Homo sapiens: one gene and its partners. The gene in region 5 interacts genetically with the main gene of each other region. Each region holds a gene or a part of one and is shown on either strand. Other genes may lie near its edges.

Region 1 (3,500 bases), on a different chromosome or scaffold from region 5:
AAAAAAATTATTTTCTGGCTAAAAAGGGCTATTTCAAAAGCAATTTCTCAGAATCAAATTTGAAAGATAATCATAAACTCTTAGAAGAGTAAATCTGCCTTTTCTACCATTTCCTTCTTCCTCAAATACCTGATGAATGAATCCCATTTAAAACGTTAAAAAGAACACACTCCTGCCTCTAGTGAGCTTACAAAATACTCACAGTAAAACTAATCCTAAGCCTGTTTAAGCCTTTAAAAGAAAAGGGTAATCTAGATAGCGAAACATCATGTTTTAAAAACTGTTAATGTCCTTTATATGTAACCCAAATATTTTTCTCTTACCTTTCCTGTGGTCTGTCCATAAAGCCCAAATATCTCACGGAGTTTTTCTTCACTGATTGCATCTGTTCTGTCAATTTTGTTACCCAAGATAAGGATTGGCACATTGGATATTGTTTCATCAGTCATTAAAGCCTAAAGATTGAAAAAAAAGAAAAAAAGAAAAAAAAGAATTAAGTGAGGAATCTACAAAAGCCCACCAGATAATGAAAATTCTGACTTCCACTAATCTTTTAAGGCATTAATGTAAAGTGAAAATCTGATCAACTTTATACCTGAGTGATTAAAGATTCACCTTGACATTACATAACACCCATGACATTAAGTAAAAATCTCCTAAGTGCCTCGAAACAGTTGCAACTTTATTCTATTTATTTACAAGGCAGCAGAACTGCCCCAATATTAACTTTTGAGCTAATCTGCTCAGCCACAAACTATCCTCAGGATGTCCCTCAGCAAAGTCCTATAAGAATGAATGCTCTGGCTACAGAGCCTCAAAGATGACTACAGGAATTCCCCAAGTATTCACCAAGTCCCATTGTGTGCGAAGAACTCTCTCAGGCATTGAGAGGAATAAAGTAGGAAGGGTAACTATCTCAGGCACTGAGGATACAAAAGGAAGCACATTCCTGTCCTCAAAAAAATCCTCACTCTATGTTCACATTATGTTTTTTTTCTTTTTTCTTAATCTCAGCTCACTGCAACCTGTGACTTCCAGGTTCAAGCGATTCTCCCACCTCAGCCTCCTGAGTAGCTGGGACTACAGGCATGTGCTACCACGCCTGGCTAATTTTTGTATTTTTTTAGTAGAGATGGAGTTTTACCATGTTGGCCAGGCTGGTCTCAAACTCCTGCCCCTCAAGTAATCTGCCAACCTCAGCATCCCAAAATGCTGGAATTACAGGCATGAGCCACCACGCCCAGCCACATTTATGTTAACAAAGCCAAGTAAGAACACAATATAGTGGATAAGTGTCACAATGAATGGGAACTGAATATTAACATTAAGACAAGTTCAGGGAAATAAAATGGCAATTTTGGGCTTGAGCAAAGTCTTAGAAAAGATCTGGAACCTAAACAGGGCTCTAAAGGAAGGGCAGGGTTTGGATAGGTGTAAAGGAGAAGTAAGAACATAAACAACGGCTTTGCATTAGGACAATAATTCAGGAAGCCACACAGTACTGCATGGCTGGATTCAAGCATTTAGATAGACATGCAGCGACAAAGTAAATGGATGAGAAGAGATGACTCACATTAGGGGCCAGTGTGAGAAGTGAGCTGCAATATATCCTAAAAGACCACAAATCCAGAAGTTAGTGAATAAAATCTTATTTTTCAGTATAATGAATTCACAAATAGTATCTATCTGTGGTGTTCATGTAAGAGATCATGATCTAGCTTAAGGTAGAGCATTCAATGAATACTGCAGGAGGCATTTTGAAGAAAGAATTGAAGAGACCAATGTCTAAATGATTAAAAAAAAAATTTAAAAAAGACAAATGAGTCAAAACTGCCACTGATTTCAAGCCTGGGAATCTAGTTGTCACCAATAGGAAAGCTAGCGGGGAAAGCAGAGTTAAAGAGATAAAGAGGAATGTACTTTGACCATCTGGAATTCCAGGAAATGTTACACAAAATTAGAATAAGAATGTCCTTCATTCATTAAGCAACAACAAAGTACCTAATGTGTCTAATGCTTTGCTAGGTGCAGGGGTTTTGCAAAGAAATAAGACACAGTCCCTATCATGTTAGTTCATAGTCTGATGAGAGAGAACTATAAAAAAATCAATAAAGACAACAGACATTGGTAAGGTGGGAGTCTAACACAGTCTCAGAGGTCAAGGGAGGCTTACCAGAAGCAGTCATATCTGAACTCTGAGGTCTCTTATAGAACATTTTAAAATTTGCCGACAAAGCGAGGGGTTGAGGAGAGGTACAGGTGAAAAAGCCAGGCAGTAGCTACTTGTGCATATTCAAGGATGGCTAAGTTGTTTGTTTGGAATATAGTTCAAGGTAGGCAGTAAAAAGAAACAGAGGGAGGATCATGAATGATCCTATGTGCTATGCAAAAGATTTATAGATTTTATCCTGAAAATGATAGAGAACTATCAAAGGATATTAAGTAGGGCAATTAAGTCTGAGAAAGTTCCTTCTAGCATTATGGTGCATATCAGGGTCATGGTAGGATTTATATTAATTCACAGATTTGTGGACTGCATGTCCAGGTAGGTGGTGGGTGGGAAAGACAAATAGTTCCATTCTAGGAAAACAGAATCAGTAGTAGGAGTTGTCGAGAGTAGGCAGGATTAGGTATGAGATTAGAGCTCAGGAGAGGTCTAGAGGAGAGAAATGCATTTGAGAGTCACTGACATGTAGGTGCCAAATGAAGGGAGTAGATGGGACCAGCCTAGGAGAAAGTACTCTGGAGAACACCAACATTTAAGGACTAACCAGAAGAACTAGTGCTTCTCAAAGAGACAGAAGTATCAGCCAGAGAGGTAGCTCCAAAATCAAGAGTGAAAAGAGGAGTTTAAACAAAGAGAATGGAGACCATGCATGGTGGCTCATGCCTGTAATCCCAGCACCTCATGAGGCCGAGGCAGAGGATCACCTGAAGCCAGGAGACTGAGACAAGCCTGGGCAACATAATGAGACCCTGTCTCTACAAAAACACTTTTTTAAAAAAAATTAGCTGGGTGTGGTGGTGTATGCCTGTAGTCCTAGCTACTTGGGAGGCTGAGGCAGGAATATCGCTTGAGCCCAGAAGTCTGGAGGTTACAGTGAGCCGTGATTGCACCATTGGACTCCAGCCTGGGCCACAGAGGAAGATTCTGTTTAAAAAAAAAAAAAAAAAGCAAGGTAAAGACTGCGTGGCAGGCAATTCTACATGAGGCTGGAGCTATAGATGTGAGAAACATACTTAGAAATAAATTCAAGACAGGTTCAAGTTGCCAGAAACAAGAATGCAAGGAGTTATAAATCAAAGAGAAAGAAGAGATATAGGGTAAAGGAGTAGGGATAACAAAGCCAATAGTATAGAAACCATCAAGCCATGAGAAAATGCAATGTTGACAAAGGAGAAAACTTGAAGTGAGTCCTTAATAGTATCAAAGGATGTATGCAACCAAAACTGAAGACTGAGAACAGACCATGAAGGTCTGGCAAGTCATTCAGTGGGAG
Region 2 (3,500 bases), on a different chromosome or scaffold from region 5:
ATCTTCCTTTCTCTATGGCCTTTCTTCACCCATCACTATCATAACTATAGCTTTCGCTCCTGGAAGAAAACTGATAATAAAGCCGAGTAAGAGAAGGGGCATTCTCTATAGGCCAGGATGGATCTGGACAGGGCGTAGTGCCACTGAGGATACTGTTCCCACATTTGAACAGCTGGCCTAAGGAGAACCGTGCTGCAGAAGAGTCCAGTGCGGAGGCCATTCAGTTGTGCCTTTGAGAGATGCTGCTGCTGATTTTGTATTTAGAAAGACCTCCCAAGAGCAGACCAGGAAAAATCCCCTGATGCCAGGCCACTAGATAGAGTTTCCAGGAACACCAGATCATTATAGTTCCCTTCCCCCAGACATGGAAAAACACCCAAAATGTAAGTTTCCTACCATTCTTGGAAATGATCCCTTTGAAGAGAATGATACTATTTGCTTCCAAAAATCAATGGCTATTCACAAGCAGAGTGGCTGGAGAGAGACTAAAGAATTCTTAGAGAGACTTCTCCCCCGTGCCCTGCAAAAGGGAGTCTCTCGTCGTCTCTGGTCAGAGGTGCAGAGTGCCTTCCAGGACCCCACCCACAGAAACGTGCAGATGGAGTTGGCCTAAGCAGCGGGAGGGCGCCTACCTGTGTAGCCAGCTAGGGCAGCAGCAGGAATGACAGGCTTGTCCTTATTGAGGTCAGCACGGTCCCGCACATAGTCCTTGAAGGTGCCCTTGGGCTTGTGGTTGGGCAGGGCAGCCGGATAGTCCTCTGAGTCGAAGCTGTCATAGGAGGGAACACGCTGCAGGCTGTTGAAAGATGACTGGCTGCTCCAGGACTGGGTGAGGCGATCACAACTATCGTAGCTCTCTATGCTTTCAAAAGAGTCCTGGCCCCCGAGTTTACCTGGAGGTAAAGGAGGAGGTAGGAAGAGGACAGGGGGAGGAGGGAGTGGGAAAAAAAAAAAACTGTAAAAACCCTCTTATGGAGGACAGATTGCTAATCAGATCTGCAGGAAGGACGGAAGAAGGGAGAGGCGAGTGGGAACAGAAGCTTCAGGGGTCATGGGTTTACTCTGAGGAAAGGGGCTGCACTAGGCCACCATCCGAGGGTCCACGGCCACTCTGCTGCCTGGTTTGAGAACTCCAAGTACAGAGATTCAGAGTCAAACGTTGCTCACATCTGTCGGAGTAGCGTTTGGGTCCTCAAGAGTTCTAAAGCCAGAAATCTAGAAGCTGAGGATCACACATGTTATGATATGATTTCTGGCTGATGTCGTAGGCCCAATGAATAAATGAAGAAATCAGAGCAATGTCAGGCTGAATTCCCCACTCCAGCTCAAGCCAATGAGATGACTTCAAAAGGCCCAGTTTGGAAAACATTTTGGTCATAAGAAAAAAGAATCCCATTAGACTAAGAGCAGATTAGCCTGTTTTGACCTTGGAACTAAGTGCTATTTTTTAGCATTTTTCCCAAATACTATTTTAATATGAAATACATGTACTGACCCTATGCCTTTTCAAATAGAGTAAGATGGTGTAAGATGCTTTTCCCAAGAGATTTTTTAAAATCACACACACTATCACTCTTCTAAACAGAAAACCATATTCTTTATCCTCTCCAAGTAAAATTATGTACTTGAAATTTAAACTTCATTGGAAAAGTGTAGGCAATATTTAAAAGGTTTATTAAAGAGTTAAGGTCCACAGCAGTGTCAGAAATCCTTTACTGTGTGAGTTGCTTAAGGCATTCTTAACTGACCACAAGATCATGCAAGTTCATTAATTTCCCAAACCAGGTTATAAACAGCTGCTATGATTGCACAATAGCTCCTGGAGAAATTTCCATTGGCAAAAATGCCACTAAAAAGGAGGCTAGCAAAAAAAAAAAAAAAATAGTTTTGGAGGAAAACAAATGAATCTAAGAGCGAAAAAGGCTCGCAGGAATGGTTTTTATATGCAACTTTCAGATACTTTTCAAGTAACCTAAGTTAAATCATAGGAGACTAGATGGTCACCTCAATTCAGCACAGGCCAAAAGGCAAAGGGATGTGACAAATGTTTACGGAGAAATATCCGTAAGTCAACTCTTAATTGTTCAGGGGTGGTTGATCTATAAATTTCAAATCCCAGAATAAGGCTGACTTATACAACTTCATATTAGTGTGCCTCCAGTGTATTTTTCCCTCCATGACAGCGGAGATTGGTTAAAACAATAAACATCAAACATGAACAGATGCCCAAACCTAAATTAAATATATAGGAAAATATGTTGCTCCCAACATTGTTTAAAGATCCGGATAAAATGTATTCGGTTGAGTGTGTACTTTTTGTAAAATCCACTGCTGTGGGTTTTCTCTACATCCTGACCCCCTCTGGAACTGCTTTAAACAGAAAGGTGGTGTCATCCGTTTCATCTCATTCCTTCCTCCACTCATCCATTCAGAGGAGGGTAATCTCTGGAAAGCAAACTGAAGAGCTTCATGGAGTTATCAGCCCTGCCCACCCAGTCCACTAGCAAAAGGGCACCTCTTCATTCTTACTAAAAATGAATATATATTTCTTTATAATTCTTAAAAATTCTTTCCCATTTACCCACCAGAAAAGTCATCTTTTTCACCTTTTTAGAGATCATTTAATTTTCTTTCAAGAAATTCACACTAAATGATTTAAGAAAACAGCCTACAACCAGAATGTCAAAGCCTTGTTTTAGCAGAACAGGAAATTCTGTGGCGTCTCATAAAAAGGTATTTGTTCATACCAGCTACTGATCTTCATGGTCACTTATTTTCTCTTTGAGACAAACATACCAAAAGCCTAAGAAGGAGAATTTATATTTTCATCAACACCGCACCAAGTCGATAGTATTTATGCTAAAGTCTCTCTGAAATGATTCCATTTCTATCAGCCAATTTTATACTTGGAGAAAAAGGACATCAGAATTTTCACAAGCAAGATAGTAGAGTTTCCAAGGAGTCCCACTAAGCAAGGGGACTAAACCAAGCCAGAACCAGTCTCTGGCAACCCCCCAAACATGAGGCAAATGCAACCCTGTTGAGAGTTGTGGTTTACAGCGGTAGGCAGCTTTCATTTTAGCTCGATTTCACAACCCTGGTGCTGGGAACCTTCATTTACGGGTATTTTCTCCAAAAATGGGTAGAATCCAACTGGATTAGATACTCAGTTATGCTGCTGCGCTCATGTAGGGAAACCTGTGTTCTCTAAACTGTCCACTAGCCAGCCTTTCTGAGAAGGGCCTCGGCGAGCTCCTTCCAAAGCTATCTGAGTCCACCAAACAGACCTCAGAGCACTCAAAACAGAAGATGCGGCAGCACCCAGCCACCCACTGAGTAGACTCGTACAAAGACAGTCCTTAGGGCCCAAATAAGTGGGGCATAGAAGCACTCTGTACGCTGTAATGCAGCCCGTGAATACTGTACTATGGTTAGTATAAATAACAATCAGCTAACAGTAATGCTTTCGGTCTAGACCAATCACAGCATCTCAGAATCAA
Region 3 (3,500 bases), on a different chromosome or scaffold from region 5:
TATCCTTCCTATAAGTCGTCTGTTTTCCAGTAAATGTCCTCTCCCCCACCCCATTCTTCCCCTATTAAAATCGTGTAGAGGTTGGGCATGGTGGCTCATGCCTGTAATCCCATCACACTGGGAGGCCAAAGCAGAACTACTTGAGCTCAGGAGTAGGAGACCAGCCTGGGCAACACAGCGAGACTCCATTTCCACACAAAAAAATTAAAAATTAAAAAATTAGCCAGGAGTTGTGGCACATGCCTGTAGATCTAGCTTCTCAGGAGGCTGAGGCAAGAGGACTGCTTGAGCCCAGGAGTTTGACTTCAGTGAGCTATAATTAGGCATTCCACCCTGGGCTACAGAGTGAGAACGTGTCTCAAAAACAAAAAGGAAAAAGTGAGCATGATAGTCACCCAAGTAATGTTCCAACATATTCAAAATTAAAACAATCAAATCAACTGTGGTTTCAAACAAAATGTAGCATATTGTTTAATGTTTTAAAATTGAATTATATTGCTTTTGATTTTTTTTTGAGACAGAGTCTCGCTCTGTTGCCCAAGCTAAAGTGCAGTGGTGCGATCTCGGCTCACTGCAACCTCCGCCTCCTGGGTTCAGGCGATTCTCCTGCCTCATTCAGCCTCTCGAGTAGCTAGGATTACAGGTGTGCACCACCACGCTGGCTAATTTTGTATTTTTAGTAGAGACGGGATTTCACCATGTTGGCCAGGCTGTTCTTGAACTTCTGACCTCAAGTGATCTGGCCACCTCAGCCTCCCAAAGTGCTGGGATTACAGGCGTGAGCCACCATGCCCAGCCATATGTTGATATTTTTAATGTTTGGTTTTACAATAGTACAATAGCTATAACCCTATGAAGTTTACATCTAGTTTTGTGTTTGCATATACACATTTAATAAAAATAATTTTTGCCAGGCATGTTGGCTTGATCTTGTAATCCGAGCACTTTGAAAAGCCAAGGTGGGAGCACGGCTTGACCTCAGGAGTTCAAGAATAACCTGGGTAATATAGTGAGACCTCGTCTCTACAAAAAAATAAATAATTAGCCAGTTGTGGTGGCACGTGCCTATATTCCCAGCTACTTGGGAGGCTGAGGCGGGAGGATCACTTGAACCCAAGAGATCAAGCCTGCAGTGGGCTGTGATCATGCCCCTGCACTCTAGCCTGGGCAACAGAGTGAGAACCTGTGTCAGAAGTAAAATAAATAAATAAATAATTTAACATTGGGACAGCAGAGAAATATTTAGTATCTATACATTACTCAAATTTTTAAAAACTGATTTGAGGAAACAGCATTCATGGGATTTTATGTGGAATTGAATATGGGTGATGAAGAGAGGAAAAAATCTAGGATGACTCCTAGGTTTCTGACCTGAGCAACCTGGTGGATGGCCGTGTTTATTCATTTGAACAGAAAGAGAAAAGAATAGAAATGTAGGCCAGGCACGGTGGCTCATGCCTGCAATCCCAGCACTTTAGAAAGTCAAGGTGGGAGGATCACTTGAGGCCAGGAGTTTGAGACCAGCCTGGGCAATAGCAAGTCCCTATCTCTACAAAATATAAGTTTTGGTTGTGTGTGTGTGTGTGTGTGTGTGTGTGTGTGCGTTTTTCAGAAATGAGGTCTCGCTCTGCCACCCAGGCTGAAGTGTCACAGCTCACCGCAGCCTCGACCTCCCAAGCTCAAGCGATCCTCCCACCTCCCCTCTTGAGTAGCTGGGCCTACAGGCGTGCACCATTATGCCTGGCTAATTTTTAAATTTTTTTGTAGAGATGGGGTCTCCCTAAGTTGTCCAGGCTGGTCTCGAACTCCTGGGCTCAAGGGATCTTCTTGACTCGACCTCCCAAAGTACTAAGATTACAAGCATGAGCCACTCCACCCACTTGATCAAGGATCAAGGATTACTTGAGCCCAGGAGTTCAAGGCTGCAGTGAGCTATCATTGCATCATTGCATTCCGGCCAGGGCGACAGAATGAGAGCTGTCTTTAAAAAAAAAAAAAAAAAAAAAGTCGGATGCAGTGGCTCATGCCTGTAATCCCAACACTTTGGGAGGCCGAGGTGGGTGGATCACCTGAAGTCAGAAGTTCGAGACCAGCCTGACCAACACGGTGAAACCCCGTCTCTACTAAAATACAAAAATTAGCCGGGCATGGTGGCACACGCCTATAGTCCCAGCTACTCAGAGGCTGAGGCAGGAGAATTGCTTGAACCTGGGAGGCGGAGGTTGCAATGAGCGGATATCGTGCCACTGCACTCCAGCCTGGTTGACAGAGCAAGACTCTGTCTCAAAAAAACAAAGGTGGGGAATGGCAAAGGGAAGAGAGATCGAAGAGTTATTTTAAACACACTAATTTTCAGGTGCCACCAAGAAATCTAAGTGGAGATGTCCAGTATAAAGATATTTATCTGCGCTGGGCGCGGTGGCTCAGGCCTGTAATCCCAGCACTTTGGGAGGTCAAGGCGGGCAGATCATGAGGTCAGGAGAGCAACACCATCCTAAGACGGTGAAACCCCATCTCTTCTAAAAATACAAAAAATTTGCCGGGTGTGGTGGCACATGCCGGTGGTCCCAGCTACTCCGGAGGCTGAGAAAGGAGAATCGCTTGAACCCAGGAGGCAAAGGTTGCAGTGAGCCAAGATCGTGCCACCTCACTCCAGCCTGGGCAACAGAGCAAGACTCTGTCTTAAAAAAAAAAAAAAAAAGATATTTAGCTGCAGCCAAAGTGACAGATTTCACCTTAAGATATAATTATGGGAGTCACTGATCTATGCATAAGATTTAAAACCATGGGAATTAAAGACACCCAGGGAGTATATAAGAGTAAGAAAAATAGGTCACCTTGAAGAACACCAATATTTAAGGAGGAGAGAGAAAAAAACAATCAGAAATGGAAGAAATATTGAGAATACTGCTGTTGAGAAATAGCAACCAAAAAAAAGAAAGAAAACCATAACTACCCTTCTGGTGATATCCTAGAAACCAAAGAAAGCAATTGTTGTAAAAACAAAATAACAGCCAAAGGTATCAAATGCAGCTCGGAAAATGAGAACTGAAAAATATTTTTCTATTTAATAACCAGGAAGCCATTTGTGGCCTTATTTATTTATTTATTTATTTTGAGATGAATTCTTGCTCTGTCGCCCAGGCTGCAGTGCAATGTCATGATCTCGGCTCACTGCAACCTCCACCTCTCGGGTTCAAGTGATTCTCCTGCTGAGAATCACTCAGGAGGCTGAGGCCTCCTGAGTAGCTGGGATTACAGGCGCACGCCACCACACCCGGCTAATTTTTGTATTTTTAGTAGAGACAAGGTTTCACCATGTTGGCCAGGCTGGTCTTGAACTCCGGACCTTGTGATCCACCCGCCTTGACCTCCCAAAGTGCTGGGATTACAGGCATGAGCCACCACGCCCAGCCTTGTGGCCTTATTAAGGACAATTTTGGGATGTGTGGGTAAAGAAGCTAAATTAGAAAGTTAGAGGCAAGAATGAATGCAGATGA
Region 4 (3,500 bases), on a different chromosome or scaffold from region 5:
TCTATCTCTTTTGCCTCCAAGGATTGAAATGATTCCAGAAAACAGCAGAGTCCTTCCTGGTCTGCCTGCTGGGGAAGGGGACAGGGGACAGGCAAGGGATTAGCTAGAAACCCCTAACCTCAAGAGATCAATTAATTGTTGCAGAGTTTAGGGCCCTCTTGTTTCAAAGTTTTTGGTAATATTTTAGTGTTTTTATTTTGTTTTGACTGGGGTGTGTGGCGCTCCTAGTACATAGCTTTCTGACCTTTTTAATGTCATGATACACATAAAATGATACTTGTTTGGTACACTTGGAAGAACCAGAGGAGAGCTGTATCCCAGATGACGCTGCTCACAGCTAGAGCTAACCAGCCCAGAGGCTCTGGCGACCCTAGCCACTCTGAGGGCTGAGGGCAGCAGTTTCTCACAGCACATGGTTAGGAACCTCCTTTTAGCCAACCCACTGTCCCACCATCATGCAAAGAAGCTTGAGACAGCCTCCAGGAGGCTGGACAGCCTCTCAGGGTTCAATGAGCAGCAGATGATGCTGGAAATTAAGAGAGAGGACTGAGCTGTTTCCATGGCAGATTAGGGAGAACTCCTACATCTTTTTACCCACACTTGGGACAGACACCAAGCAGGAAATGATGGAGAAAATATTAAGAAGCTGGCTCCTTTAGGCCACCGGAGAAGTGATGAATTTCTTATTCCATGTGTCCACTCTGTATTGGCCTAGTTCCAGGAGTGACCTACAGGCAGACATCTTGGGCTTACTGTGCTTGGAAGAGGGGCTTTGAGGTCTGCCTTGTGATGACAGGCAGGAAGGCTCGTTCATGAAAGAGGAGGAGCACAGTAGGTGAGGCAAATGTTGGTGGAGAAAGCAAGCCAATATTTGTAAAGAAGCCCTCACTGGGCTGCCCGGACTAAAGATTGGAAAACGTATAGCTAGGTCCCCAAGCCCACATATTTGGCACCTGCCTAGGCAGGGTCTGCCCAGAGCACCAAAGAAACCCTCAAGTGATTAAAAATCAAGAGGCACTGAAAATTCAGCCCCCTCCAAAATAAAGAACCAACTTAGGTTTGTGGAGACCCTCAGAAGGAACAGTTAGTGCATGGAAATGAAAATGTTGACCTCAGTGTCACTGGTCACTTCTTAGGCTCTCCGACCTATTTCCTTCACTTTTCACAATTCTCAGTCCATTTAAATCTCATAGGTGTCTTCTACTTCCCTCTTATTGTGGTATTGTCATTAATTCACATACAAAACCCTGCGTGTATGAAGACTTTCCTGTCAGTGTGATCCATTATTTAATAACTGCCTCCTCCTCAGAGCCTCTGAGCTGCACGACGTAGGACTCTGCCCATGTCTGTCATAGTCACTGATGCATCTCAGTGTTTAGCAAGTCCCTAATACACAGTAAGTGTTCAAAAAATAATTGTTGGATACATGAGTAATAAATGCTACTAGGATGTGCCAGGCATTGGGCTACATATACCATCTCTAATCTCACAAAAACACTACGAGGGATGGAATACAAGTCTCATTTTACAGGTGAGAAAACCCAGGCTGCAGAAGACCATGGGACTTGGCCAAGGGGTGCGGTAGAATCTAAACCCATGGCTACTGATTCCAAAAGCAGGGGGCTGCTGATTGTACCTTCTGTGGCTCTCTCTGGTCTCATGCACTCGTCTCCTTGCCACACGTGCAGGCACTGTCCACTGTCACCCAGGTCTTGGCACACCCACAAGGGGCAGGAGCTTATGCCAACAGACAAATGCCAACAGAGCCAAAGCAACAGACATAGCTCTGCCCTAGGAGGCCTTGAGATCACAAGTGGTGATTAGGACAGAACCGGTGTTATCCATTGCTAGAAAGTGACACAACCGAACATGCAAGCAGCCCGTCGTCAGGAGGCAACAGGACACAGGGCTCCTGGCAACCTACCGGCATAGTGGTAATTTGCTAAAGGATGACATTTTAACCTGACAGGCTTCCGCAGTAGCAGCATTTCCAGAGCAACCTGCAGACCCAAAGGAGAGAAAAGGCAAGAGTCAGCAACTGGTCTGTGTGTCCTATGGAGATCATCTACCCAAAGGGGAAAAGCGGTTAGCACTGTGGAGGTCAGGGGCGGGGGCACTGGAAGGAAACCCAGAGGGAGACTCCCCTAACTAGGGTTTCATGTCTGTTCAGCAAATAAGACTCTCCTTCTAACACCCTCTCCATCCATGCCTGAAGCCAGTTGTTCATGTCACAGGAAAACAGAACGACCTGACTCTTCCTTGGTAAAATCCCACCCGCCCCAGAGATGAGTGGTGCCTCCTCTGACTGGAGGCTGAGTCTCTGGGCAAAGATTCCTAGGAAATGAGTGGGTGATCTGTAACTGTTTTATAGAAAAATCGTGTTTCATTACAGCTGAATAGAAACAGCTGCATCAGTAATAACTGTACTACACACACCATCCTTCCAGAGAGCCTAGCTAAATAAACTGTTTCAAATCAGCCTCGGTAGCTTTTTAAAAGATGCCGCAGGCAGAGTTGAACAGAAGATAGTTTCAGGGCAGAGCAGGGCCTAGAATCTTGCTACTCTAAGTGTGGTCCATAGAACAGGAGTACGTCCCTCACCTGGGAGCCGGTCAAAAAGGCAGAACCTGGGCCCTACTCCCAAGCCTCTGAATCAGAATCTGCATTTTTAACAAGATTTCCCAGGTGATGTGCACGCACATTGAAAGTCTGAGAAGTGCTACACTGCCACACTGATCTCAAAGGGTTAAGGACAGTTCTCCAGCATTCTAGGAAATACTTGAAGGGTATCATAGTATTGGGACATTTATTTTCACATTTTCATAAAATCAAAATGCAGGAAGCTAGATATACTACCATGTATTTATATAAAGGGGAAACAGAGGTTAGTGATTGAGTGATCTGGTCAGAAGTCCAGGATGAGGCTGGGTGCGGTGGTCCATGCCTGTAATCCCAGCACTTTGGGAGGCCGAGGTGGGAGGATCACCTGAGGTCAGGAGTTCGAGACCAGCCTGGCCAACATGATGAAACCCCATCTCTACTGAAAATACAAAAACTAGCCAGGCATGGTGGCATGCACCAGTAATTCCAGCTACTAGGAAGGCTGAGGAGGGAGAATCGCTTGAACCCAGGAGGCAGAGGTTGCGGTGAGCCGAGATCATGCCATTGCACTCCAGCCTGGGCGATAGAGTGAGACTCCATCTTAAAAAAAAAAAAAAAAAAAAAGGAAGTCCAGGTTGAGCAGGTCAACTGTTAGCTCTGATTTTGGGAAGACAGCACCAAGGCATGGGTTTGGGAACATCTGCAGAACTGTGTTAAAAGTGGAAGAATGGAACCAGTTGGTGAACAGTAAACACTTTATTTTGGTTAGAGGAGAAAAGAGTTCTATAAACATCAAACTTTGGCTGATTTCCATAGTAGGGAAGAAGAATCAGCAGAGTATGATAGGCTATTTTAGACCAACTTCTGCTTCAGTAAAGCCTTCTACCTCCATCACTGGA
Region 5 (3,500 bases):
TAACTTTTATTGGAGGCACATCACCTCTTAAAACTTTTAAGTTTCAAACTTGTAACTTTTGATTTTTGAGTTGTCACTTGGGTATTTTATAAATGTGAAAGAAAATTATTTCTTGATATTATGGTTTTTGTCTAGAACTGGTTGAAATAAGCCCGAAATTCTAGCACCTAAAACTTTTTTAAAAAAAGTGATTTAGGCTTGCAAATTTCGTGATGTAAATATATCCACCAAGAGCGTTCTAATGTCAGCTTTAAAGGAAAGAAAACTGGAATCCAATGGGATGACATGCTAAAGTGTTACAAATCAAATTATTACTTAAATCTCAACCTCTGAATTGCTGTTTAATACTCAGATATTCTCCTAAAAAATTTCCAGGTTGATTCAAATAACTTAGGTTAAACTCAACTTTTACGTGTTGGGATGGGGAAGAGAAGACTTATTTGTAGCCTTCACACCTTTATGTTCCTGTTTCAGTATTTGCATTTGATCCATTGAAATTTTTATTTCATTTGGTATGGTTAGGGTAAAACAAATCATTTGAGAAATGACATTTTGTTCTCCCTCTCCCTCCAAAAAAAAAAGATTATGAAAGCCACTTGTAAACTTTTTTTGTAAAAATGACCAAAAGACTGGAAAAGTTAATGTTAGGCAAATCCTGGAAATATCTTTTGGAGCTGTTTCTGATCATCTTGAGTGATGGAAATGATGAGGGTCATCTGTTGTCTTCATTACTCAGTGAACACGTTTTGTCACTGCTTGGTAAACGCTTAATGCCGTATGCACTTAAAAAGCACCTGGAAAGATAGGATTTTAGGATCTGGCATATAATTAAGTAGGGTAAAGATCCTTCTGGTCTTGGTACAGTTTTGTGGCCCTGGGTTTTGTGCTTTTTTGTTTTTTGAGTTTTTCCCCCATTTCAAAGACACAGGGCAGATAGTGTGTAAAGTATACCTGCTTTTTGACCAGTAGATTAATGTACACAGTGGAGAAGTGGTAAGGCTTTTTAAAATGTCAGCTCTACTTTTTTTTTTTTTTTTTTTTTTTGAGACAGAGGTTTGCTCTCGTTGCCCAGGCTGGAGTGCAGTAGCTCGATCTTGGCTCACTGCAATCTCAACCTCCCAGGTTCAAGCGATTCTCTGCTTCACCCTCCTCAGTAGCTGGGATTGCAGGTGTCCACAACCATGCCCAGCTAAGTTTTGTATTTTTTAGTGGAGACAGTATTTCACCATTTTGGCCAGGCTGGTCTCGAACTCCTGACCTCAGGTGATCCACCCGCCTCAGCCTCCCAAAGTGCTGGGAATACAGGCGTGAGCCACCATGCCCGGCTGTCAGCTCTATTTTCTTAAAATGCCATTGTGTTAGTGGTTCGTCATCCTAACCAAAACATTTTGATCAAGACCATTTATTTTCCAGCTCTGTAACTTGTGATATGCTATGTTTTATTTTATTTTGGCTTGAATGTTTACATAAGAGTTTGCTTCTGGAGTCTTGCAGATATAGCTCCTGATTTAGTGAGGCATTTCTCTCCTCAGTATTAAATTGCAAAACATTTTACTAAAGTGCTTTAAGTTTTTCTGGCAATTATTCTCAAGGCCTTGTAAGTTCATTTATAGGACTTCAAGAAGGTTGTCTCTGGTTGATAGTGAGATAAAGTGACTTTTAAGTTGTAAATCTTGAATGCGTTACAATATGGGGGTCTTATTCCAGCAGGAGTTCATCTTCTATAGCAGAGGTTGGAATTGTATTGGCATGTCCAGTGAATGGATAATAGGGAGGAGGGAGGAAAGGGTTTCTGCCTTGGTGGCCTTTTGGCATTATTTTGTGTTTTTCTTTGCTTTTCTCTCTCTTCTTTATTTAATAAAAACAAAAAAATGGAAACAGTTGAAAATTAATGCAAAGTGGTATTTGTAGGGACATTAAGTGGTAAATAGGAAAGAGAAAAAGAGTAGGAAGAGTGTTGCAGATACAAGTGGGAGTGTAAAATACTTTTTCCTGGTATATTTACAAAAACAATTTGAGAGTTATTCTGCCAATTCATATACCCAGCAATTAATGGAAAAGTAAAAGATGCTAGTTTTATGTTTGTCCAGATTTTAGGGTTTCCTTCTTTGAAGATTTCTAAAGTTGAATATTTTTTTAAGTGAGGCAAGCAGTAAAATTAATGGGCAAATGAAACCAATTATACCAAGTCTAAAATTTTTCTTTTTTTTTTGAGGCAGAGTCTCGCTTTGTAGCTGGGACTACAGGCGCCTGCCACCATGCCCAGCTAATTTTTTGTATTTTTAGTAGAGACGGGGTTTCACCATGTTGGCCATGATGGTCTCGATCTCCTGACCTTGTGAACCTCCCATCTCTGCCTCCCAAAGTGCTGGGATTACAGGCGTGAGCCACCGCGCCCAGCTAAAAATTTTTTTTTTTTTTAATACTTTTAAGTTTTAGGATACATGTGCACAACGTGCAGGTTTGTCACATATGTATACATGTGCCATGTTGGTGTGCTGCACCCATTAACTCGTCATTTAGCATTAGGTATATCTCCTAATGCTATCCCTCTCCCCTCCCTGCTAAAAAATTTTTTAACATTGAACTTCGCAGGTGATTTTTTTTCGCTTAATAGACGGTAGTTTCATTTTGAAATTTTCATGGGAAATTACTGCTCACTTTCCCAGAAGCGCTTAAGAGGATAAATAATAATTGAGGTGTTAAGCCTCTTCTGAGCAATTTGGATATAATTTGTTTTTAGATCTAGATTCTTTTTTATAAATGTCCCAAAGCAATTAGAAGTGATTGTTTTTTTTGAGACGGAGTCTCGCTCTGTCGCCCAGGCTGGAGTGCAGTGGCGCGATCTCGGGTCACTGCAAGCTCCGCCTCCCGGGTTCAAGCCATTCTCCTGCCTCAGCCTCCCGAGTAGCTGGGACTACAGGCGCCCGCCACCACACCCGGCTAATTTTTTGTATTTTTAGTAGAGACGGGGTTTCACCGTGTTAGCAAGGATGGTCTCCATACACTGACCTCGTGATCCGCCCACCTCAGCCTCCCAAAGTGCTGGGATTACAGGCGTGAGCCATAGCACCTGGCCCTAGAAGTAATTTTGTTGAGAGAGAGAGAGTAAAACTAAAAGTACTGAAAAGAGTAAGAGAGTAGCTAAGAGAATGAGTATTGGAGTCAGACTGCTAGAGTTCATAGCCCAGGCTTGTATTTATTAACTGTGAACTTTGGGCCAAATACTTAACCTGGCTCAACCTCCTCACATTTATTCCTAACCACAGCCCTGTAAGGTGGGTGCGCACCTTATAGGAATCCACCTTACTTACCCACCTTACAGGATTGTGGTTAGGAATAAATGAGAATTCTCTTTATCAGATGCTTAGGACTATGCTTGCTTCTGTGTAGTATGTGTTCATTGTTAACTGTTTTTAACTTTACTGCTAAATATATCAGAAGGAAAGCAGTGGTAGATGGTTTGGGGGTTGTTTTTGTTTTTTTGATTTGCAACGAAG
Region 6 (3,500 bases), on a different chromosome or scaffold from region 5:
TGGCGGCTGCAGACAAGAGCAAGAAACTGGATTGGTGTGTCTGGGAGGTAGGACCCAGGCTCAGTGCCGGCTCTGCTCACCCTATGGGGCAGGTCCTGGATGTGCGGGAGAACCCCAACCTGGTCATGCCGCCCAAGCCCGCAGACCGTGCCGCTGAGTGGTACAACATCGACTTCTCGCTGCAGAACCAGCTGCGGCTAGCGGGTGCCTCTCCTGCTACCGTGGCTGCAGCTGCAGCTGGTGAGTGGGGAAAGGTCTGGCCTGGGAACGGGGGCTCCTCTCCAGGCCTCAAATGACACATCTGTAAATTGGGTGGCATACAGCTTTCTGGACCCTGGTGGGTGGAGTTGGCCCCTGGTTGGTCGCATGCCCAAGGGGGCAGCAGGCCCAGTGAGGGCTCAGCTGTTTGCCCCTCCCCTAAGCAGGGAGTGGGCCCAAGGACCCTATGGCTCGCAAGATGCGACTGCGGAGGCGCAAGGATTCAGCCCAGGATGACCAGGCCAAGCAGGTGCTGAAGGGCATGTCAGATGTTGCCCAGGAGAAGAACAAAAAGCAGGAGGTGAGCCAGGCCAGGGTTGGGACAAGGCAGGGAGCCTTAGCTTCTGCTGAAGGCCGACCCTGGCCTTGACCCTGGCCAAGAGGGACGGGGGGTGCTGGGCAGAAAGAACAGCTGTGCAAAGGCCCTGAGGTGTGGGTAGCAAGTAAAGACTGGCCTGAGTGGCTTCACAGAGTCAAGCCGTGCTCTGTGACTCTGCCCCCAGGAGAGCGCAGATGCCCGGGCCCCCAGCGGGAAGGTGCGGCGTTGGGACCAGGGCCTGGAGAAGCCCCGCCTTGACTACTCCGAGTTCTTCACGGAGGACGTGGGCCAGCTGCCCGGACTGACCATCTGGCAGATAGAGAACTTCGTGCCTGTGCTGGTGGAGGAAGCCTTCCACGGCAAGTTCTACGAGGCTGACTGCTACATTGTGCTCAAGGTGAGGGCTGGGCATGCTGTTAGGGGCCATGTGGCCCAGTACCTTCCTCTAAGATGGCTCAGTCCCCAACTCCAGAGTTTTGTTCAGGGAGGCCAGGTGGGAGGTGGGCAGGCTGCAGGAGGTGGTCCAGGCACAGGGGCAGTACAAAGCCCCTGGGGCTGGGAAGCCTGTGCTGTTCAGAGTGGCGTCTCCGGGGTGGCCGGAAGACCAGGATGAAAGCTGATGTGGCCGGTGCCTTGGCTTCCAGACCTTTCTGGATGACAGCGGCTCCCTCAACTGGGAGATCTACTACTGGATTGGCGGGGAGGCCACACTCGACAAGAAAGCTTGCTCTGCCATCCACGCTGTCAACTTGCGCAACTACCTGGGTGCTGAGTGCCGCACTGTCCGGGAGGAGATGGGCGATGAGAGCGAGGAGTTCCTGCAGGTGCCAGCCCGTTAAAATTGGGGGTGGGCAGAGTGGGGTTCCCAGGGAACTCTGGTGCAGGGGCAGTGGGCCCAAGGCAGGTAGGCAGAACAGGTGGGCAGGCAGGGAGCTGGGGTTAAAGGGGGTGGATCAACGATACTGTGCGGGACCTAAGGCAGACCGCAGGGTGAGGTCTAAGGTGGCCAAAGCCTGGGTCAGCAAAGGAGAGTTCTGGAACGCGGGGCAGAATTCAGCCGGGCAAGGATAAGGGTACAGGCTGGGCATGGGAGCTAGACCAGTGGGCTGACACAGGGGAGCTGAGAGTAGGGTGGAAGGGGTGTTGCCAAGAGCAGTGAGAAGGCAGGGCCAAAACCTGTTATTAGGAGGCAAGGACACACCTGGATGCCAAGGAGGTGGGGCCAAGGGCGGGACCAGAGTCCAGTCTTGAATAAATTACTGAGCAGTGTTAGCCGCCAGCTGGTTACACCTAGACATATGTTCGCATGTACACACACGTGGAGTTTATGCACACACCCCACCCGCCCCGAGTTTTTTTTACCCACATTCACCCAGGTTTCCACTCTTCCATGAACCCACTTGCTTGTGTACCCTGATATGCGTGCATCTAAACATGCTGCTGGCATCTTTACAAACGTGGGTGAACGTGTCCATATTTTTCATACATCCCAACACCCCGACGTGTGTATGTTTATAGACACAGATGTGTATGTTTTATTTTAGACAGACTCTCGCTTTGTTGCCCAGGCTGGAGTGCAGTGGCACAATCTTGGCTCACTGCAACCTCCGCCCCCAGGGTTCAAGCGATTCTCCTGCCTCAGCCTCCCAAGTAGCTGGGATTACAGGCATGTGCTACCACGCCTAGCTAATTTTTGTATTTTTTTAGTAGTGATGGGGTTTTGCCATGTTGGCCAGGCTGGTCTCGAACTCCTGACCTTAGGTGATCCACCCGCCTTGGCCTCCCAAAGTACTAAGATTACAGGCATGAGCCACCGTGCCCAGCCAGATCTGTTTTTTTTGTTGTTGTTTGTTTGTTTGTTTGTTTGTTTTAAGACAGAGTTTTGCTGTTGTTGCCCAGGCTGGAGTACAATGGCACAATCTCAGCTCACTGCAACCTCCGCCTCCCAGGTTCAAACAATTCTCCTGCCTCAGCCTCCCGAGTAGCTGGGATTACAGGCATGCACCACCACGCCTGGCTAATTTATGTATTTTTAGTAGAGACAGGGTTTCTCCATGTTGGTCAGGCTGGTCTCCAACTCCTGACCTCAGGTGATCCACCCACCTCAGACTCCTGAAGTGCTGGGATTACAGGCATCATAGATTTGTAGCACTCAATTCACCTGTATGCAACTCTGTACCCCCACCTGAGGGGCAGTGGTTGGTGGGGGAGGGGGCAGCTCAGTGATGAAGAACCACACCCTCACACACACAGGTGTTTGACAACGACATCTCCTACATTGAGGGTGGAACAGCCAGTGGCTTCTACACTGTGGAAGACACACACTATGTCACCAGGTGAGGGTGTGTGGGCAGTGGGGGGTATGGACCTGGAGTCTGCTGGCAAGGGGTGGAGGGGAGGGTGTTGGGGCTAAGTTAGGCCCTTGGTGCCTACACTGAGCCACTCTTGCCCTGCGCCCAGGATGTATCGTGTGTATGGGAAAAAGAACATCAAGTTGGAGCCTGTGCCCCTCAAGGGGACCTCTCTGGACCCAAGGTGAGCCCCAACAATGTGAGGTGGGGGTGCTTCATCCTCAGCCTCCTCCCCACCAGTGGGGGCAGGTGTGGGCCTCTTAGAAGAGGAGGCCCTCTAGCAATTCCTGCCCACGAGCTTGGCGGGGGGTCCCTGGGGCTTACCCAGAAACCCCATAGTGAGGGATTTTTTTTGGTGGGGTCAGGAGCATGGGGTGACCATTGCCCCATGCACCATCACAGCTCCTTCCTGCCCCTTCTTGTCCAGGTTTGTTTTCCTGCTGGACCGAGGGCTAGACATCTACGTATGGCGGGGGGCCCAGGCCACACTGAGCAGCACCACCAAGGCCAGGTACAAGGACACCGTGGGGTCTTTTGTGTGAAGGAAAGGGGTGTGAGCCTCGCTGATGACT
Region 7 (3,500 bases), on a different chromosome or scaffold from region 5:
GTAATCCATCTAGCCCTTACATTATTCTTAATAACATTAAGCAGTTTTGTTTCAATAATGCTTAACACATTTAATAGAGGGTTTCTTGGTAGCAGACAATGAATTGTGTACCCTTACAGGATTTAAGAAATTATGCAGCAATGTCTCATCTATCTGGAACTCACTAGCTTTGGCAACCTTGTCCAGGACAAAGCCAGGGAAAGTTCTCAACAGCTCACTGTTACAAATCTATGCAGTAAAGTTCATGAATTTTGAACATTCCTAAGCCTCAGTTACCTCATCTGGTGGAGATTGCACTAGATCAGTGGTTGTAAACTTTTGTATTGTTGTTTTTTAAGCAGAGAAATTATTTTTTCACATAAAGATTTCTGTGGAAACCCAATAGGTAGAATAGATAGAAAGGGACCTATACTGGTTGAAATAGGAATTGGGAAGGGGAATAATCCAATAATTGTTTTCCTCCCACTCCAGTAATCCTTGAAGAGTTTTATGGGAACCAAAGAAATGTAACAGATTACAGTTTGAAAGAGTGTTTTTTGGGTGGAAATTAGGAGCATGGTTTTTGCTATGTTAATAGCTACTATTTAGAAAGCATTTCTTTTGTGTGTTTTACAAAATAATTATTTGATTTAATATTAGGCTGCATTCGTACATTTTAAAGACTTGGTTTTCCAAACAAAAATATCTTCATATAAATGTATATAAATGTGGAACCTTGCATAGTGCCTTGTATATATACAGCAGATACCAAGTAAATATTTTAGCATGTCTGTTGCATAAGTAAGAATCTGTATGAGAAACATGTATCTTATGGAAATATCAGTGTATCATATTTGTTATGGAATCTCTAGTAGTAAGGAGTACATTGTGGAAATATCAGTACATTGTGGAAATATCAGTGCTTTTTACAAGGATATCTCGTCATAAATGACCATTTTGCTCTTGTGTCTGTCTTGTGTGCTACATAAATCTTATGTTGATAATGAAGGCATTAAGGTAATTATCACACAAATAATGATATGTAATTGATCTCATTTTTTATAAATATAATATTAAATAGAGTTGATACACATATCCTTAGTTACATAAATGCCAAATCTAGTAGTCTCAAGTGATTATGAAGATAGTCCTTGGACCATGCTCTGACTACTGAGGTCAGTTTCTTTTTTTACTTCTAGATGTTGAAAGTTATTCTAATTGCCCACCTTTTCACCTTTACCTGAGAGACCATAACAGTTGTTTTTGGTAACAGTCAACATTACTGGTGACCTTTTACATAGCGGTCTATAACAGCTAATATTTTAAAGTGTTTATGTGTTGCCAGTAAACAAGATGACACTGCTTAATACATGACTAGCTACTTGTCTTTTATGAAGGTAGGAATATATGTTATTTCTTCATATGATTAAAATTACAGATCAAGAAACTAATGCAAGTGGTTTCTTTATGGTTTTATAGGTTCATGAAAGCCTTAAGTTATGCATCATTAGATAAAGAAGATTTATTGAGTCCTATTAATCAAAATACCCTGCAACGATCTTCCTCAGTGCGGTCCATGGTGTCCAGTGCCACATATGGGGGTTCAGATGATTACATTGGTCTTGCTCTCCCGGTGGATATAAATGATATATTCCAGGTATTATCATACATTTTATTGTTTTCCTATGAGTTGGTTTCCTATTTTTTCATATGCTGTAACTGCTTACTAGAAATCATAATTTAGGGTGGGCACCAGTTTGGGGCAGCATGATTTTTAAGACCGTTTTGTTTAAAGAAACTTTAAGATTAAAATTATTTTGCCCTTTTCAACTACTCTGTACTCTTTTATTTAGTCCTTAGAACATTATCCTTCCCTCTCTTCCCATATTAAATCAGTATCTCATTTGATTTCTTTATCCATATATTCTCTGTAGAAATTTATGAAATTTCTAACTTGTTTTTTAGTCACATTTAACTTATACCTCATTTTTAAATCCTCATTCCTATTTATCCCATAAAAGGTAGCCAGCCATATGTGGTACCCAGTAATATAAGGTGACCCTAATCCCAGGAGATACCCACAGATCTCTAGATGGTATATAGTACTAAAGAACACATTTTCTTAGAAGTTGAAAGACATTTTAGATAAACGCTAAAATAATTAATGTCCATTTAGTCACTAATAATATAATAAGGACTTTTTGGGTTATTTTGTTAAGTTTTGGTAGTTGAACCTTCAGTAAACTTGATTATAGGTTCATATGCTATGGTAATTCTATTTTAATTTTATTTTGTTTAATTTTGCTAATTTTCATAAAGTGGGCTTATTTTTATAGCAGGACTTACCATGGTTTATATCTTTTTTTAGGTAAAGGATATTCCCTATTTTCAGACAAAAAACATACCACCACATGATGATCGAGGTGCAAGAGCATTTGCCCATGATGCAGGAGGTAATGCATTGTGCATTGTACTTGTGAGATGCCTCTTTATATTAAAAAGAAAACTCTTAGTTCTTTCTAGTAGGATAACACTAAAAATTTAGGAAGACTCACTTTTGGATCAACTTTAAAATTATACCAAAACAATTGTTAAAGTCAGCTTAAAATTAAACCACATTTTTGTGTATGTGTGAGGGACTTAACAGTGTTTTCAGTGAAGTACTCAACCTTTCAAGGAAATAGAAACCAAATTAGTTGTTTCTGTTTTTTAAAAGTAGCACATGAACAATGTATAACACTAATCCTCATAGATCCAGGAAATAGCTGTTTGTTTAGAGTAAGGAGAAAGAAATGTACTTATAAAATACACGGTCTTTGTTTTGAACTGTTATATTTTAATATGTAAATATAAGCCACAGGTTTTATAGCTTTATATTCTTAATGACTTTTTAAACAAATGCCTCTTTATACTTAGAATTATTACATATCTTTAGGCAAATATTGACGATAATTGAAATGATGTATTATATAATCTCAATTTTCCATTTTGTATTTAAAACACTATATATTAAAATAATAAACATCTGCTGGCTTTCCTTATTTTTATAACTTAAAGCAAATTATTCTTTTTTTCTTTCCAGTTAGATTTTGAGTCATAAAATGTGCTTAAGCTTTCTTTAAAATTTCACATAATTTAAGGTACCTTGAAAAGTATTATCTTTATTGGATTATGTTTTATATTTACTTATGCACAGGTCTTCCATCTGGAACTGGAGGTCTTGTAAAAAATTCTTTTCACTTGCTACGACAGCAGATGAGTCTTACGGAAATAATGAATTCAATCCATTCAGATGCCTCTCTGTTTTTAGAAAGTACAGAAGACACTGGACTACAGGAACATACAGATGATAACTGCCTTTATTGTGTCTGTATTGAAATTCTGGGTTTCCAGCCCAGCAACCAACTGAGTGCAATATGTAGTCATTCAGGTAAGTGATCACGTCCCACCTTCAGAAAAACCTAGTGATGACTAAAGTTCTCTGGTTTACTTTTCCAAATTTCTTTTTGGTATTCTAATTC

The links.
Region 1: changes in EP300 (region 5) and SAR1A together harm fitness less than expected from each alone (positive genetic interaction), as found in Homo sapiens cells (one large-scale study listed by BioGRID).
Region 2: of EP300 (region 5) and ETS1, changing one enhances a phenotype caused by changing the other (phenotypic enhancement), as found in Homo sapiens cells (one study listed by BioGRID).
Region 3: changes in EP300 (region 5) and SEC24A together harm fitness less than expected from each alone (positive genetic interaction), as found in Homo sapiens cells (one large-scale study listed by BioGRID).
Region 4: of EP300 (region 5) and TRERF1, changing one enhances a phenotype caused by changing the other (phenotypic enhancement), as found in Homo sapiens cells (one study listed by BioGRID).
Region 6: of EP300 (region 5) and FLII, changing one suppresses a phenotype caused by changing the other (phenotypic suppression), as found in Homo sapiens cells (one study listed by BioGRID).
Region 7: changes in EP300 (region 5) and RICTOR together harm fitness less than expected from each alone (positive genetic interaction), as found in Homo sapiens cells (one large-scale study listed by BioGRID).

Annotation. Positions count from the first base shown.
Region 1 is NC_000010.11:70,153,515-70,157,014, forward strand, and holds part of SAR1A (small COPII coat GTPase SAR1A), read right to left. Parts: intron 456-3,500; coding exon 324-455; intron 1-323. UniProt on the Homo sapiens protein: Small GTPase that cycles between an active GTP-bound and an inactive GDP-bound state and mainly functions in vesicle-mediated endoplasmic reticulum (ER) to Golgi transport.
Region 2 is NC_000011.10:128,479,559-128,483,058, forward strand, and holds part of ETS1 (protein C-ets-1), read right to left. Parts: intron 894-3,500; coding exon 633-893; intron 1-632. UniProt on the Homo sapiens protein: Transcription factor. Directly controls the expression of cytokine and chemokine genes in a wide variety of different cellular contexts. May control the differentiation, survival and proliferation of lymphoid cells.
Region 3 is NC_000005.10:134,655,285-134,658,784, reverse strand, and holds part of SEC24A (protein transport protein Sec24A), read right to left. Parts: intron 1-3,500. UniProt on the Homo sapiens protein: Component of the coat protein complex II (COPII) which promotes the formation of transport vesicles from the endoplasmic reticulum (ER).
Region 4 is NC_000006.12:42,252,927-42,256,426, forward strand, and holds part of TRERF1 (transcriptional-regulating factor 1), read right to left. Parts: intron 2,001-3,500; coding exon 1,925-2,000; intron 1-1,924.
Region 5 is NC_000022.11:41,095,592-41,099,091, forward strand, and holds part of EP300 (histone acetyltransferase p300), read left to right. Parts: intron 1-3,500. UniProt on the Homo sapiens protein: Functions as a histone acetyltransferase and regulates transcription via chromatin remodeling. Acetylates all four core histones in nucleosomes. Histone acetylation gives an epigenetic tag for transcriptional activation.
Region 6 is NC_000017.11:18,248,739-18,252,238, reverse strand, and holds part of FLII (protein flightless-1 homolog), read left to right. Parts: intron 1-92; coding exon 93-240; intron 241-422; coding exon 423-559; intron 560-761; coding exon 762-974; intron 975-1,221; coding exon 1,222-1,401; intron 1,402-2,830; coding exon 2,831-2,913; intron 2,914-3,037; coding exon 3,038-3,112; intron 3,113-3,355; coding exon 3,356-3,439; intron 3,440-3,500. UniProt on the Homo sapiens protein: Is a regulator of actin polymerization, required for proper myofibril organization and regulation of the length of sarcomeric thin filaments. It also plays a role in the assembly of cardiomyocyte cell adhesion complexes.
Region 7 is NC_000005.10:38,945,400-38,948,899, reverse strand, and holds part of RICTOR (rapamycin-insensitive companion of mTOR), read left to right. Parts: intron 1-1,458; coding exon 1,459-1,636; intron 1,637-2,347; coding exon 2,348-2,432; intron 2,433-3,175; coding exon 3,176-3,409; exon of another isoform or gene 3,410-3,500. UniProt on the Homo sapiens protein: Component of the mechanistic target of rapamycin complex 2 (mTORC2), which transduces signals from growth factors to pathways involved in proliferation, cytoskeletal organization, lipogenesis and anabolic output.